2 linked regions of the Homo sapiens genome follow. Each later gene encodes a partner of the first gene's protein in a complex. Links are inferred from orthologs where the notes say so. Each region holds a gene or a part of one and is shown in the gene's direction. Other genes may lie near its edges.

Region 1 (7,094 bases):
TTTTGCTGCTCTAGGGAATCCAGCAGCTGTCACCATGTAAACAAGCCCAGGCTAGACCAGTTACCCTCATCATCTTAGCTGATAGCCAGCCAGCCACCACAGGCATGAGTCAGGCCATATTGCTGGACCCACAGAATTATGAGCTAAATAAATAGTCTTGGGTTAAGCCACTAAGTTTTAGGCATAGTGTGTTATGTATCTCACAAACATATAAGACTGTGTGTTTGTTGACTGGAGGAAGAGATGCTATAAAGACCACCTTTTAAAACTTCCCAAATACTGCCACTGATGTCCTGATGGAGGTATGAAAACATCCACTAAAATTTGTGGTTTATTCATTTTTCATTATTTTGTTTAAGGAGGTCTATAGTGGAAGAGGGAGATATTTGGGGAAATTTTGTATAGACTAGCTTTCACGATGTTAGGGAATTATTATTGTGTGATAATGGTCTTGCAGTTACACAGAAATTCTTCCTTATTTTTTGGGAAGCACCAAAGTAGGGATAAAATGTCATGATGTGTGCAATACACTTTAAAATGTTTTTGCCAAAATAATTAATGAAGCAAATATGGAAAATAATAATTATTAAATCTAGGTGATGGGTATATTGTAGTTCACTATAGTATTGCACACTTTTCTGTATGTTTAAATTTTTCATTTAAAAAACTTTGAGCTAGACACCAGGCTATGAGCTAGGAGCATAGCAATGACCAAATAGACTCCTACCAACTCAAAGAATGCACATTCTCTGGGAAACATGTTTCCATTAGGAAGCCTCGAATGCAATGTGACTGTGGTCTCCAGGACCTGTGTGATCCTGGCTTTTCCTGTTCCCTCCGCATCATCACTGCAGGTGTGTTTTCCCAAGTTTTAAACATTTACCTTCCCAGTGGCCTTGCGTCTAGAGGAATCCCTGTATAGTGGTACATGAATATAACACATAACAAAAATCATCTCTATGGTGTGTGTTGTTCCTGGGGTTCAATTCAGCAAATTTTCCCTGGGCACCCATGTGTTCTTGGCACTGGAAAAGTACCGGGACTGAAACAGTTGATGGCCCAATCCCTGTCCTCTTAAAACCTAAGGGAGGAGATGGAAAGGGGCACCCAACCCAGACTGAGAGACAGGAATTAGCTGCAAGGGGAACTAGGAAAAGCTTCTTTAAGGATGGAGAGGCCCTAGTGGAATGGGGAGATTCTTCCGGGAGAAGCGATGGATGCACAGTTGGGCATCCCCACAGACGGACTGGAAAGAAAAAAGGCCTGGAGGAATCAATGTGCAATGTATGTGTGTTCCCTGGTTCAAGGGCTGGGAACTTTCTCTAAAGGGCCAGGTAGAAAACATTTTAGGCTTTCTAAGCCAAGGCAAAATTGAGGATATTACATGGGTACTTATACAACAAGAATAAACAATTTACACAATTTTTTGTTGACAGAATTCAAAACTTTATAGACACAGAAATGCAAATTTCCTGTAATTTTCCCATGAGAACTATTCTTCTTTTGTTTTGTTTTGCGACAGGGTTGCGCTGATCCTCCCGCCTCAGTCTCCCTAAGTGCTGAGATGTTGCAGGAAGTCAGGGACCCCGAACAGAGAGATCGGCTGGAGCCGTGGCAGAGGAACATAAATTTTGAAGATTTCATTTTAATATGGACACTTATCAGTTCCCAAATAATACTTTTATAATTTTTTATGCCTGTCTTTGCTTTAATCTCTTAATCCTGTTATCTTCATAAGCTAAGGATGTACGTCACCTCAGGACCACTGTGATAATTGTGTTAACTGTACAGATTGATTGCAAAACATGTGTGTTTGAACAATATGAAATCAGTGCACCTTGAAAAAGAGCAGAATAACAGCAATTTTTAGGGAACAAGGGAAGACAACTATAAGGTCTGACTGCCTGCGGGGTCGGGCAAAGGGAGCCATATTTTTCTTCTTGCAGAGAGCCTATAAATAGACCTGCAAGTAGGAGAGATATTGCTAATTTCTTTTGCTAGCATGGAATATTAATATTAACACCCTGGGAAAGGAATGCATTCCTGGGGGGAGGTCTATAAATGGCCGCTCTGGGAATGTCTATCCTACGCAATGGAGATAAGGACTGAGATACGCCCTGGTCTCCTGCAGTACCCTCAGGCTTACTAGGGTGGTGAAAAACTCCGCCCTGGTAAATTTGTGGTCAGACCAGTTTTCTGCTCTCGAACACTGTTTTCTGTTGTTTAAGATGTTTATCAAGACAATACGTGCACCGCTGAACACAGACCCTTATCAGTAGTTCTCCTTTTTGCCCTTTGAAGCATGTGATCTACTCCCTGTTTTACACCCCCTCACCTTTTGAAACCCTTAATAAAAAACTTGCTGGTTTGAGGCTCAGGTGGGCATCACAGTACTACCGATATGTGATGTCACCCCCGGCGGCCCAGCTGTAAAATTCCTCTCTTTGTACTCTCTCTCTTTATTTCTCAGCCAGCTGACACTTATGGAAAATAGAAAGAACCTACGTTGAAATATTGGGGGCAGGTTCCCCCAATATCTGGTGCCCAACGTGGGATACTGAGATTACAAGCATGAGCCACTGCATCTGGCCTCTTCTTTTGATTTTTTTTTTTCAAACTTTTACAAATGTAGAAACCATTCTTAGCTTTTGGGCATTACCAAACCCGGCAGTGGCAGGCTCGGTTCACCAACGTCATTTGCAGTTCCCCGCTTTATGTTATGGGTTTTGTTTTGTTTTGTTTTTTTTATTGAGACAGAGTTTCACTCTTGTTGCCCAGGCTGTAGTGCAATGGTCTGATCTTGGCTCACTGCAACCTCCACTTCCCAGGTTCAAGCCATTCTCCTGCCTCAGCCTCTCAAGTAGCTGGGATTACAGACACTCACCACCACACCTGGCTAATTTTGTATTTTTAGTAGAGATGAGGTTTCACCATGTTGGCCAGGCTGGTCTCGAAATCCTGACCTCAGGTGATCCACCCACCTTGGCCTCCCAAAGTGCTGGGATTACAGGCTTGAGCTACCACGCCTGGCTGGGTTGGTTCTCAATGGAGTGGTTTGTTTTTGGAGCTGCTCTGCGCAGTGGGGACCAGAATAGGCCTGGGTTCCTAGCCCATTGCTATTCCTTACCAGCTGTGGATTCTAAGGAAAGTCATTTAACCTCGCTGGACCTTAGATTCCTCATCCCTGAAGCCCAAGGGTAAAACAAAACAAAACAAAACAAAACAAACCAACCCATCATGTAAAGCGGGGAACTACAAACGATACAGGTGAAACATGCCTACCACACCACTCACAGGCTATGATGACAAAAACGTGGCTACATCTGGGACCACCCCCCAACCCCCACTTTGTACGTAGGAAATACGGAGTTGAGGATGGAGACCCACAGTATGTCCAGAGTGTCCCCAAAGGCCACAGTGCCCGCCTGGAGCCCTCCAGAGAGCGTGCACTCCCTGGGGTGCCAGCCAGAGACAACTTGCCCTGAGGCTTGGAACTCGATTCTCCGCGTGCCAGAGAAGGGGTGGGACTTCAGAACCCCCAACCCCGCAATCTGGGTCGGGGAGCCTGGCGCACTGCGGGCCGCTCCCTCTAACCCTGGGCTTCCCTGGCGTCCAGGGCCGTCGGGGCCGAGTCCCGATTCGCTCCCACCCCGAAGCCGCGCCAGGACCAACGAGGGCGCAGCCGTATGCCCCAGCCCGCTCCGCGGAGCCCCTCACAGCCACCCCCGCCCCGACCGCGCCCCGCGCGGCTCGAAGCACCTTCCCAAGGGGCTGGTCCTTGCGCCATAGTCGCGCCGGAGCCTCTGGAGGGACATCAAGGATTTCTCGCTCCTACCAGCCACCCCCAAATTTTTGGGAGGTACCCAAGGGTGCGCGCGTGGCTCCTGGCGCGCCGAGGCCCTCCCTCGAGGCCCCGCGAGGTGCACACTGCGGGCCCAGGGCTAGCAGCCGCCCGGCACGTCGCTACCCTGAGGGGCGGGGCGGGAGCTGGCGCTAGAAATGCGCCGGGGCCTGCGGGGCAGTTGCGCAAGTTGTGATCGGGCCGCTATAAGAGGGGCGGGCAGGCATGGAGCCCCGTAGGAATCGCAGCGCCAGCGGTTGCAAGGTAAGGCCCCGGCGCGCTCCTTCCTCCTTCTCTGCTGGTCTTTCTTGGCAGGCCACAGGGCCCCACACAACTCTGGATCCCGGGGAAACTGAGTCAGGAGGGATGCAGGGCGGATGGCTTAGTTCTGGACTATGATAGCTTTGTACCGAGTTCTAGCCAGATAGAAGGTTACCGGGAGCTGGGGAGCGTTGGATTTGCTGCTGGGCTGTGCCGGTGCCCAGAAGGCAGGACCTTGCAGAACCAGCCAGGTCCCTGGGAGACTGTCAGACCCACCAACCTGGTGGCATTCGCAGAGCTGAGATGCATTGGAAATTGCCTTGGGCACATCCCCAAAGATCAGGATGTCCCACCCCAGTCTGAAGGAGATAAAGTTGGGGGTAGGAGAGACGCAGATGCAAGTGATCAGTCTCAGTCCCAGACATTGCCTTGCTCTGCGGGTAGGAATTCAGGATTCATTTTCCAGGGAAGTTCCTGACCTCTGAATGAGAGGGGCTGTGTAAGGCCAATGCCTGGGAGGAAGGCAAGGATGAGTAGAGGTGGGGGGAAACAAGTGTCAGGAAGACTCAAAATCTTCCAGAGAAATTGTGCAGGGTCTTACCAGATCTGTCCTCAAAGCCATGCAAATTGCCTTCTTTGCAATGCATACAATGAGGTGTCTCTGGGGGTCAGAACTGGTTATTAGGGAACTTCTAGCCAGGACTGCTAAATACGCGCTGTTGGCCCACCAGGCTCACCTATAGCCTTCCTTCAGTCTGGGCTTGGTTTGGATTTCACTGTGGGTGCCATCGCCTTTACACTCCTGTTTCTATAGTTTAAAGATAGTGGTGCTTTGGGAAAGTGACTCCTTAAATACAGTTAGGTCCAAGTGAGACAAGTGGCCTGGCTGTCATTTCAGAATAGCAGCTTCCAAGAGGTGATTAATTTCTGTTGGAAGGGTGATCTTTGGGGAGGTGGGTGAAGAGCAGAGACTTGGTGGTACCGTTCCAGGAGCACAGGCTCTCTTCCTTTGCAGTGCAGAATGACCTCTGGCAGCCGGAGTTGTGTTTGTTCTGTAGGATTCTGAGGTGGGCCATGGGCAGCTGGAACTGGGGAATTTTGCCAATCTCTTTCATATTAGGATTGTCTGCAGAACCAGATATGGAGGCTTCTAGCAACGTGAGTGCTCCTGTTCTAATGCCCTTAGAAACAAGAAGGCCACACTGATCATTTCTCTCACTTAGGCAGGGAGACAAGGCAAGAGAGAAACAGTGGATGCTTTTAGGTTCTTTCCCTTCCCAAGCAGTTGTGGACATTGGGCTGAGGGGAACATTTCCACATTGGCTAAAGGAGCGTCCTCCTCATATTTTGTACATTTTATACCCAAAATAACTCTTCTTGGTATTTGGGGAAATATTTTCCTCCCCGTCCATTCCAGGAAATGGCTCCAAGTGCCAAGGACAGAGCCAGGGAAGTTGCAATGAATTCCTGCCCGTCAGCCCCAGGCAGATGCCTTGCACGTCTGAGTGGCCCATGCAGAGCGTGGAGGTGGCCGCCACGGAACCTGGGTCAATGTCCCACCCCCGCTTAGATGCCACCAGGGGCGTGGGAGCCAAGGAGAGAAGAGGGGCTCCAGGAAGGTAGAGTCCTTGTGTCTTGTGCATCTGTGAACAGCACTGGTATGATTTAAAGGAAAATTGAGCCAAATTTTCCGGCAGTCAGTTACCCCATCCCCACCGGGGTAGGAGTCTGGCAGCCGCAGCTCCATTCTGGCCAGTCGGCAGAGAGCCTTGAAATTCTTCTTTGTCCACACAGTTGTCTCAGAGAAACAGAGAGGTTGTTTCTGCTTAAAAACAACACACTTGGTGTCTGGGCCCACAGACTCCTTTGCACTTATTCCACGTGTGACAGCCAATGTGCCTCGTTGCTTAGCAGACAGCATGTTACCGTCTTTCCTGCTCAGTTTGTTAGCTCTATGGAATGGAATTTATAATCAATGCCCATACCAACATTTCACTAATATCATAGGAGATTTAGTCTCCATCTGGGTGTACATTACATTTGCTCTGGGGTGCTCCAGGCTGGGGGGTTGCCAAGGAAGAGAAGAGAAACCGCAGAGAAGACGGGAGGGCAGGGCAGGGGTCTCTGAGAAGGGGAGGGGTCCCAGAGTGCAGGAGCAGGAGCCAGGCTCATGAAAGGGGCCACGGGCGGGAGTATCCAGGGACGGCAGTCAAGATGGAGCACAGCTTAGGAAGCTGAAGGGAATCCTGGCCCACCTGGGTGCTAGAGGGCACATAGGAAGTGCAGGAAGCAGACCAAGGTCCCCAAGAGAGGGAGACCTGGACGCTGAAGCATTTTCTGTCTTTATTAAGACAACTCCGTAAGAATTCCTGCTGGGCCAAAGTGAATTCTAGGATGCGACTTTAAGATGGGAGCAAGCGAACCATTGAGGAGGCAGGTTACCCTAGTTAGCCAATGCAGATCGAGAATGGGAAATCTTTCATTTATTCATGCAACAGATATTTAACGAAGCCCTGCCGTGTTCCAGGCCTGTGATAGATGCTGGAACAGGTACAGAGATACAGGTGTCATTAATTGATCAGGGCAACCTCTCCTTCTGAGTCTTGCTGGAGCTTCAGATGCCCCTCACACAGAGCTCGAGGGAGCCTCAACAATTGATCAGAAGTCAGGCACCATGGCTCACGCATATAATCCCAGCACTTTGGGAGGCCAAGGCAGGTGGATCACTGGAGCCCAGGAGTTCCAGATCAGCTGGGGCAACATGGCAAAACCCCATCTCTATTAAAAAAAAAAAAAGTAACTGGATGTGATGGTACACACCTGTAGTCCCAGCTACTTGGGAGGCTGAGAGGTGGGAGAATTGCTTGAGCCCGGGAAGTCGGGGGTCCAGTGAGCCTTGATCACACCACTGCACTCCAGCCTGAGTGACAGAGCAAGACCCTGACACACACACACACACACACACACACACACACACAGATTAGAGCTGAAA
Region 2 (7,026 bases), on another chromosome or scaffold:
TCTTTGTCCCTTAACATGTGTATACTTTCAGATGTTTTTTAAAAAGCACTTTGGCACCTTCCTATTAAAGAGTCTCTCTAAATCTTCTCTCAAGTAAAAGGAAGCAATCAAAAATGTTCATTGGCTTAATTAATTAGTTTAATACTAATTATGAGTATTATGGACTTTTTTCAGAAGAAAATTTGGATAAGATAGTCTCCTATGCTTTTGATTTCTACCTTTATCAAAGAACATTGCTAAAATGAGTAGATACCTGAGTCAGTCAGCATTTATTTGGCTACCTCCTTTTGCCAAGCACTTTACATAGATTATCTCATTTAATTCCCATAAGCTCAATAAGGTGGCACCATTATTTCCATTTTACAGGTGAGAAATCAGGTTCAGAGGATTAGCTTCTACCCAAAGTCATAAGACCAGATGGTGGCAGAGTTAAGATTTGACTCATGTTTGTGACTCAGAGCTCAAGATTTTGTAACAACCTTGATACTCTGTTTCTCACTCAGCAGCACAACAAGGGCAAATACGTTCCTACTCCCGCAGAGACTAGTGTCCAATAGATACAGGGAATACATATTTTATTCAGTGCACACTAGTTGGGAATTGTTTCCTACAAAGACATGAAAACAATCTTCAAATACTTGCAGTACTGTGGTTTGGGGAGGCAAAATGATCAAAGGTATATATTACAGGGAGGCAGTTCTGGATATAATTTAAAGAAGGAGGGCTTTCAACATTTAGAAGCTGTTGGAATTAAATGACTTGCCTTGGGAGGTAGTGAGTTTTCCTTCACTGGAGTTATGTGGACCAACTGGCTGCCCTCTGGTGACAAATACAGAGGGAATTCATCCATTGGATAGGGGTTAGGTACTGGAATTACTTGAGACCTTTGTATACTTTATGATTTCAAGGTGGCAGACATGGGTCATTGTCTTAATCAGTTTGGGCTACTATAAGAAATATATTTTAGACTGGGTGGCTTAAACAACAAACATTTAGTTTCCACAGTTCTGAAGACTGGGAAGTCCAAAATTGTGGTGCAGTCAGATCTGGTGTCTGGTGAGAGCCAGCTTCCTGGTTTGCAGGCCTGCTTTCTGCTCTCACATTGGAGAACAGAGGGAGAGAAACACAGAGAGAGTGTGTGCTCTACTTTCTCTCTTCTTATAAGGGCACTCATCCCATCGTGGAGACCCCACCCTCATGACCTCATCTGAACCTAATTATCTCCCAAAGGTCCACCTCCTGATAGCATCTCACGGTGAGAGGGATGGAGCCGGGAAGGTTTCAACATGTGAATTTGAAAGGGACACACATAATGCAGTCTGTAACGGGTCAAATGTAACCTCAATAAAATGAGTAAATTGCTACATTTGCTTGAATTTGGGACCTTTTTTTCTTTCTTTTTTATTTTAGTAAATGTTTTTATTGATAAATGATTCACATACCATAAAATTAACATTCTTAAAGTGTAAGATTTCATGGTTTTTAGTATATTCAGAAGGTTATGCAGCCATCACTACTATCTAATTCCAGAAAATTTACTCATCCGCCAAAGAAACTCTGGACCTATTAGAAGTCACTCCCCATTTCCCCAAACCCTCTAGTGCCTGACAACCTCTACTGTGGGAACTTTAACTTTTGGCTTTATTTTTCACAGCTCTCGTGGCATTATCCTTCAGTGGGGCTATTGGACTGACTTTTCTTATGCTGGGATGTGCCTTAGAGGATTATGGGTAAGTTATCATTTCAAAAAGAACTATTCCTCTTTCTGTGTCTTTGTCACTATTAGTATGGGTGTTAGAGAGTTCGGTCAATTTAGCACCAAGTTCTAACCAGTGAGTTAGTGGAGCCCAGTTTATGAACACAGTCCCTTTGTGGGTCAGGTGTACTTTTGCAGAGGGCTCTGTTAAAAATTGATGTATTCATTCCATAAGCATTTGTTTAACACCTACTCTGGACTAGCTGGGGACACACAAATGAAGAGAGAGTCCTGTCCTCAAAGAGGAGGTAAAGTTCTAGTTGTGAGTGAGAGACAGGCAAACGGTCTAGTCAGTAATCTGGCAGCTGCAGTGGAGATGCCAGCACAGTACGCTGGAGCTCGGATAAAGTGCACCTGAGTTTCAGTGGGACAGTCAGGGAAGGCTGCATGGCAGAGGTTGTATCTGAGCCAAGACTAGGTGGATGAATAAGAGTTTTTCAGGGTGATGAGTCAGGGGAGGACATTCCAGGCAGAGGGAACATTCTACACATTTTTTCATTCAACCATTGTTGGTTGAATGCTTCCCATGTGCCAGCTACTGTTATGGGAACTAGGGATTAAGACATAAGAAAACAAAGGTCCTGCTCTCTCAGAGTTTGTGTTTCAGTGGGGGAGACGGACAGTAAACAACAAAAGTATGCATACTGTCAGAGGTAGAAATGGTACAAAAGATGAAGAGCACAGAAGCTGGGAAGACAGTGGTCAGGGAGGGCCTCTCAGAGGAGGTAAAAAGTGAGAAGAAATGTCAAGAAAATCAGCAAGCAGGCCATACAGATCTCTAGGGAAAAAGCACTTTAGGCACCAGGAAAGCTGAATGCTAAGGCCCGGAGACATGAAAGTGTATATAGCCTTTTCAGGAAACCACACATGGTACATTATGGTACAGCATAAATTGTAGTGGAGTGGCAAAAGAAGGGTTAGTCAAGAGTGTAAAAGTCAGCACTTAGGGCTCTATATGCCTGCCGTGTAGAGGAGGTTCCATTTTATACATCAGACAATAGAACCTGGGAAAATATCTTGAGAATGGGTTTGGAGGAGGGGGTTATGTTAAAATGTCATTCTTGCCATAACGTGAGACTAGATAGGAAAGAGCTGAGACTGCAGTCAGGGAGAATAGTAGGGGACTACTATCATAAATCAAGCAAAATTGAGGGCTGGGGCAGTAGGAATGGAAAGAAAAGGAGAGTGAGTTAGGAAACCAAACCAACCAACAGGTTTTGTTCATCGATGTCAGGATTCAACAAGGAGGGAGAGTTCTTAGATGTCTCCCAGGTGATTGGCTTGAACAACTAGATAGAAGATGATGTGATTAGGCCAGGCACCATGGCTCACGCCTGTAATCCCAGCACTTTGGGAGGCTGAGGCGGGCAGATCACGAGGTCAAGAGATCGAGACCATCCTAGGCAACATGGTGAAACCCCATCTCTACTAAAAATACAAAAAATTAGCTGGGCGTGGTGGCACACGCCTGTATTCCCAGCTACTTAGGAGGCTGAGGCAGGAGAATTGCTTGAACACAGGAGGTGGAGGTTGTAGTGAGCCAAGATCGTGCCACTGCACTCTAGCCTGGCGACAGAGCAAGACTTTGTCTCCAAAAAAAAAAAAAAGATGATGATGATGTGGTTAAGACCTATTGAAGTGAGTTATTATGACAGTGATGAATTCAAATCCATCACCGCAGTCCTGGCCAACTATTACAGAAATTGTTTAAACCCAAGAGGGATCCAGATATAAGCGGTCACTTATATTTGTTTAGAGCCTTCACAGCAATTACTTTATTCTAGCTTTTGGAATGTAATACGGTATTATTATCCTCATTTCTCGCTGGGAAACCAAAGCCCAGGGTAGTTAAAGACTTACCCAGATTGAACAGCAGTAAGTGACAGAGCCCGGCCGTGGTGGCTCATGCCTATAATCCCAGCACTTTGGGAGGCAACGGTAGGAGGATTGCTTGAAGCCAGGAGTTTGAGACCAGTCTGGGCAACAAAGTGAGACCCCATTCTACAAAAAACTAAAATAAGCCAGGCATGGTGCCTGTAGCAGGGTTGGGAGGCTGAGGTGGGAAGATTGGTTGAGCCCAGGGGTTGGAGGCTGCAGTGAGCTGTGATCACACCACTGCAGTCCAGCCTGGGCGACAGAGTGAGACTTTGTCTCTTAAATAAAAAAGTAGAAAAAAAATTAAAATGGCAGACATGGAAATGGAGCTCATGTTCTGACGCCCTTGACCAAACGTTTTTCCACTATTCCACAACCAACTGTAAATCTAGGAGTTTTAATTCTCTGTGATACACTGTCTTTGTAAGGTAAGAAAATGACTCATTACTGCTACTACAAATAAGTTTGTTTTCTATCTTTATTTTAATTTTTTGTTTTTTAGAGATGCCACAACACCCAGCTGATTTTTTTTAGAAGTTTTTGTAGAGACCGAGTCTCTCTGTGTTGCTCAGGCTGGTCTTGAACTCCTGGCCTCAAGTCATCCTCCTGCCTTGGCCTCCCAAAGCTGTATCTTGATAGTGAACCAGGATTATCATCTATATTGGAAGTCAGCAAACTGCCACATATAACCTGCTACCTGTTTTTGTAATAAAGGTTTTATTGAAATACAGCCATGCTCATTTGTTTATGAATTATCTTTGGCTGCTTTTGCATTGCTCTGCCAATTATCTTTGGCAGAGTTGAGTAGTTGAGATAGTCTTTATGGCTTGCAGATCCTCGTTATTTACTCTTTGGCCCTTTATAGAAAAAGTTGGCCCACCCCTGGCCTATGTATTTATTGAATTGTATATATTTAATATTTACATTTTATATATAAACAAGGTTTCTTGTACATTAATATTTCTCTTAGTTGGATATCGGTGGCTTACTATGAATGAAAACATAGAGTCAGATTGTTTTTCACAAAACTGTCACTGTATTCCAGGAAAAATTAAGAGTTCTTGGCTGTGGATATGTAAGGTGACATATCTATTCCAAACCCCTTCCCCTCTCTGTGTCTCCTTTCTCACTGTTGAAAGAAGGGCTTTGAAGTAGAGAATGTCTAAGGGCTACTTCCCACAATATTGTTTGGTGATTCTTGAAACATACTATCATCCCTCTAGTTTAAAATCAGGGGTCCAAATCCACTGTTTCCATCCTGAGTCCTCTTGAAGGACACATTCCCTTCTTGCCTTTTGGTTGCCTAGATCTGTGGCTGGAATGGGAGGCTTTCATTAGTGTGGCTTCATCCCAACTCCTGCTTGTAGGTGCTGTCTGGGCGTATCTGTGTGATTACAGTATTGTGGTGATATGAATTATTGTAGTGTATATATAAAAATGAGCAGAGACTTTTTTTTTCTTAAGAAATGAAGCATAAGAAATGTCTGATGGAGAAAAAAAGATTATTTTTGAAGTACTGATAGAGAAAATACTGTTGGAAACCAGATGGCAATTTTTTTTTTATAATTGCAAAATGTTGAAATTTGGGAGGAAAACAGTTTTGTTTTGTTTTTGCATTACACTATTAATTGTGAGCTCTTATAATGAAGATCAAAGTACATCTAAGCTTTTCACTAGTGAGCATATTTATTTTCATGCCTTCCGTACTTAAAATTTATTTATTATTTTATTCATTTAACAAGTATAAATGGAGTACATCATTCTAGGCCCTGGAGATAAATGGCGTTTGATCAAGACTAATCTATCAGATGGGAATAAGTGTTGTGCAGAAAGTTCAAAGAGGGTGGTATGTTCGAGGGTGACCTGGGGTACATTAGAATAGATGACCAGGGAAAGTTCTGCTTTTAGAAAGGAATCTGTCAGTTTAGATCACATGGTATGAAGGAGTCAGCCAATGAGAAGATCATGGGGAAGGACATTGCAAGCAGGGGGCACAGCTAGCGCAAAGGCCCCAGGATAACAGCTATGAGCTCAAGAGTGTTCAAGGGACAGAAAAAAGGCTGGTGTGGCTACAGATTAAGCAAATGAAGGGAAAAGAGTACAAAATGAATGGAAGAAGTAGATAATACCAGACCATAAAGGCTTTGTAGGCTAGGGCAAGGAATTTAGGGTTTATTCTAAGCTCTTAAAAGGTTTCAAGCATGCGTGCACTCAAAAGATCTTTACCGAACTAGCTTTTGCAAGACACTCTACTATGTTCTATAGGGAAGGCAGAAATGACCAAGTTAAAATTCTGTCTTTAAAGAAATTGTGGCTCAGTGGTACAGAAAACAGTAAAGTTTCTAGGGTATATATTATATAGTGGCTTCTTAACACAATATAAGCTACCTACATAGTAATTTTAAAATTATCACTACTTATCTATCCCTGGTAGAAATCATCTTATGTTCTAATATTCACAATTAATTAATTTTTTGACCTAAACATTTAAAATAGCAATGATTTTGAAATAGTAGTATGTCTTTCATTTAAAATGTAACTGTTACTTTTCTTTTTGGATTTTGCCTGGGTCCAACTGACAGCGTTTACTGGCCCTTATTCGTCCTGATTTTCCACGCCATCTCCCCCATCCCCCATTTCATTGCCAAAAGAGTCACCTATGACTCAGATGCAACCAGTAGTGCCTGTCGGGAACTGGCATATTTCTTCACTACTGGAATTGTTGTTTCTGCCTTTGGATTTCCTGTTATTCTTGCTCGTGTGGCTGTGGTAAGTTTTATTTTCTATTGTTTTGCCCAACCGTTGCTGAGTTTACTTCAGAGGCCTGTGTCTGGGACCTCCATTTCATGCTCATTACTTAGGCTTTATACTCAAGGCCGTGTGTTTTTAGTTTCTCTGTTCCTCTACTTTAGACCTGCCTAACAGTAGTTCGGCCATGCCTTCAGAGTGCTTTCTTTATTTCTCTTACAACTTTTAGCCAGACGATATGATTTCTTACTTTTTCTACTTTAAGCTATTCTCTGGAATTGTTCTTAAATTCCTGCCTCTTAAATCTTACAGTAATCCACAGATACTATGCTAGCAGTACTTTTCTAGTTGCAAGATGAAGATATTTCAAATTCTTCTCCTGCAAATGGGATCATGGACTCAACTCTCAACTCAGTATAATAGGTATATGTTGAGGGACAACTGTGTAGCTTCCAGAAAATGCAGTGAATAAGTTGACATCTTCACTTCCAAGACAAAAACTTTCTTTTTGTCTTCAGAGTACACATTGTAGGTATAATTTATTCAATTATTTGCTATTCACTGTCTTTCCTACTATTTGATTTTATTCCCTCCAATTACGTTCTATTTTAATTTTATGAAACTCTTATTTGAGGCATTGAATATCA

The links. Proteins that work in one complex are often made in the same cells at the same time.
Region 2: the proteins of LEP (region 1) and LEPR are in contact, whole or in part, in a crystal structure (PDB 7Z3R), measured with the Mus musculus proteins. The link is inferred for Homo sapiens from one-to-one orthologs. Residues at the interface, in NP_032519.1 of Mus musculus: Lys26, Val27, Asp30, Thr33, Leu34, Lys36, Thr37, Thr40, Arg41, Gln92, Gln96, Asn99, Asp100, Glu102, Asn103, Asp106, Leu107, Leu110; in NP_666258.2 of Mus musculus: Tyr439, Leu440, Thr441, Arg466, Ser468, Leu469, Tyr470, Gln499, Pro500, Ile501, Phe502, Leu503, Leu504, Ser505, Val560, Phe561, Glu563, Asn564.

Annotation. Positions count from the first base shown.
Region 1 is NC_000007.14:128,237,202-128,244,295, forward strand, and holds the start of LEP (leptin precursor), read left to right. Parts: upstream 1-4,076; 5' UTR 4,077-4,105; intron 4,106-7,094. UniProt on the Homo sapiens protein: Key player in the regulation of energy balance and body weight control. Once released into the circulation, has central and peripheral effects by binding LEPR, found in many tissues, which results in the activation of several major signaling pathways.
Region 2 is NC_000001.11:65,423,649-65,430,674, forward strand, and holds part of LEPR (leptin receptor isoform 1 precursor), read left to right. Parts: intron 1-1,654; coding exon of another isoform or gene 1,655-1,730; intron 1,731-4,133; coding exon of another isoform or gene 4,134-4,155; exon of another isoform or gene 4,156-4,361; intron 4,362-6,213; coding exon of another isoform or gene 6,214-6,400; intron 6,401-7,026. Other genes in the region: LEPROT (leptin receptor gene-related protein), read left to right, coding at 1,655-1,730, 6,214-6,400. UniProt on the Homo sapiens protein: Receptor for hormone LEP/leptin. On ligand binding, mediates LEP central and peripheral effects through the activation of different signaling pathways such as JAK2/STAT3 and MAPK cascade/FOS.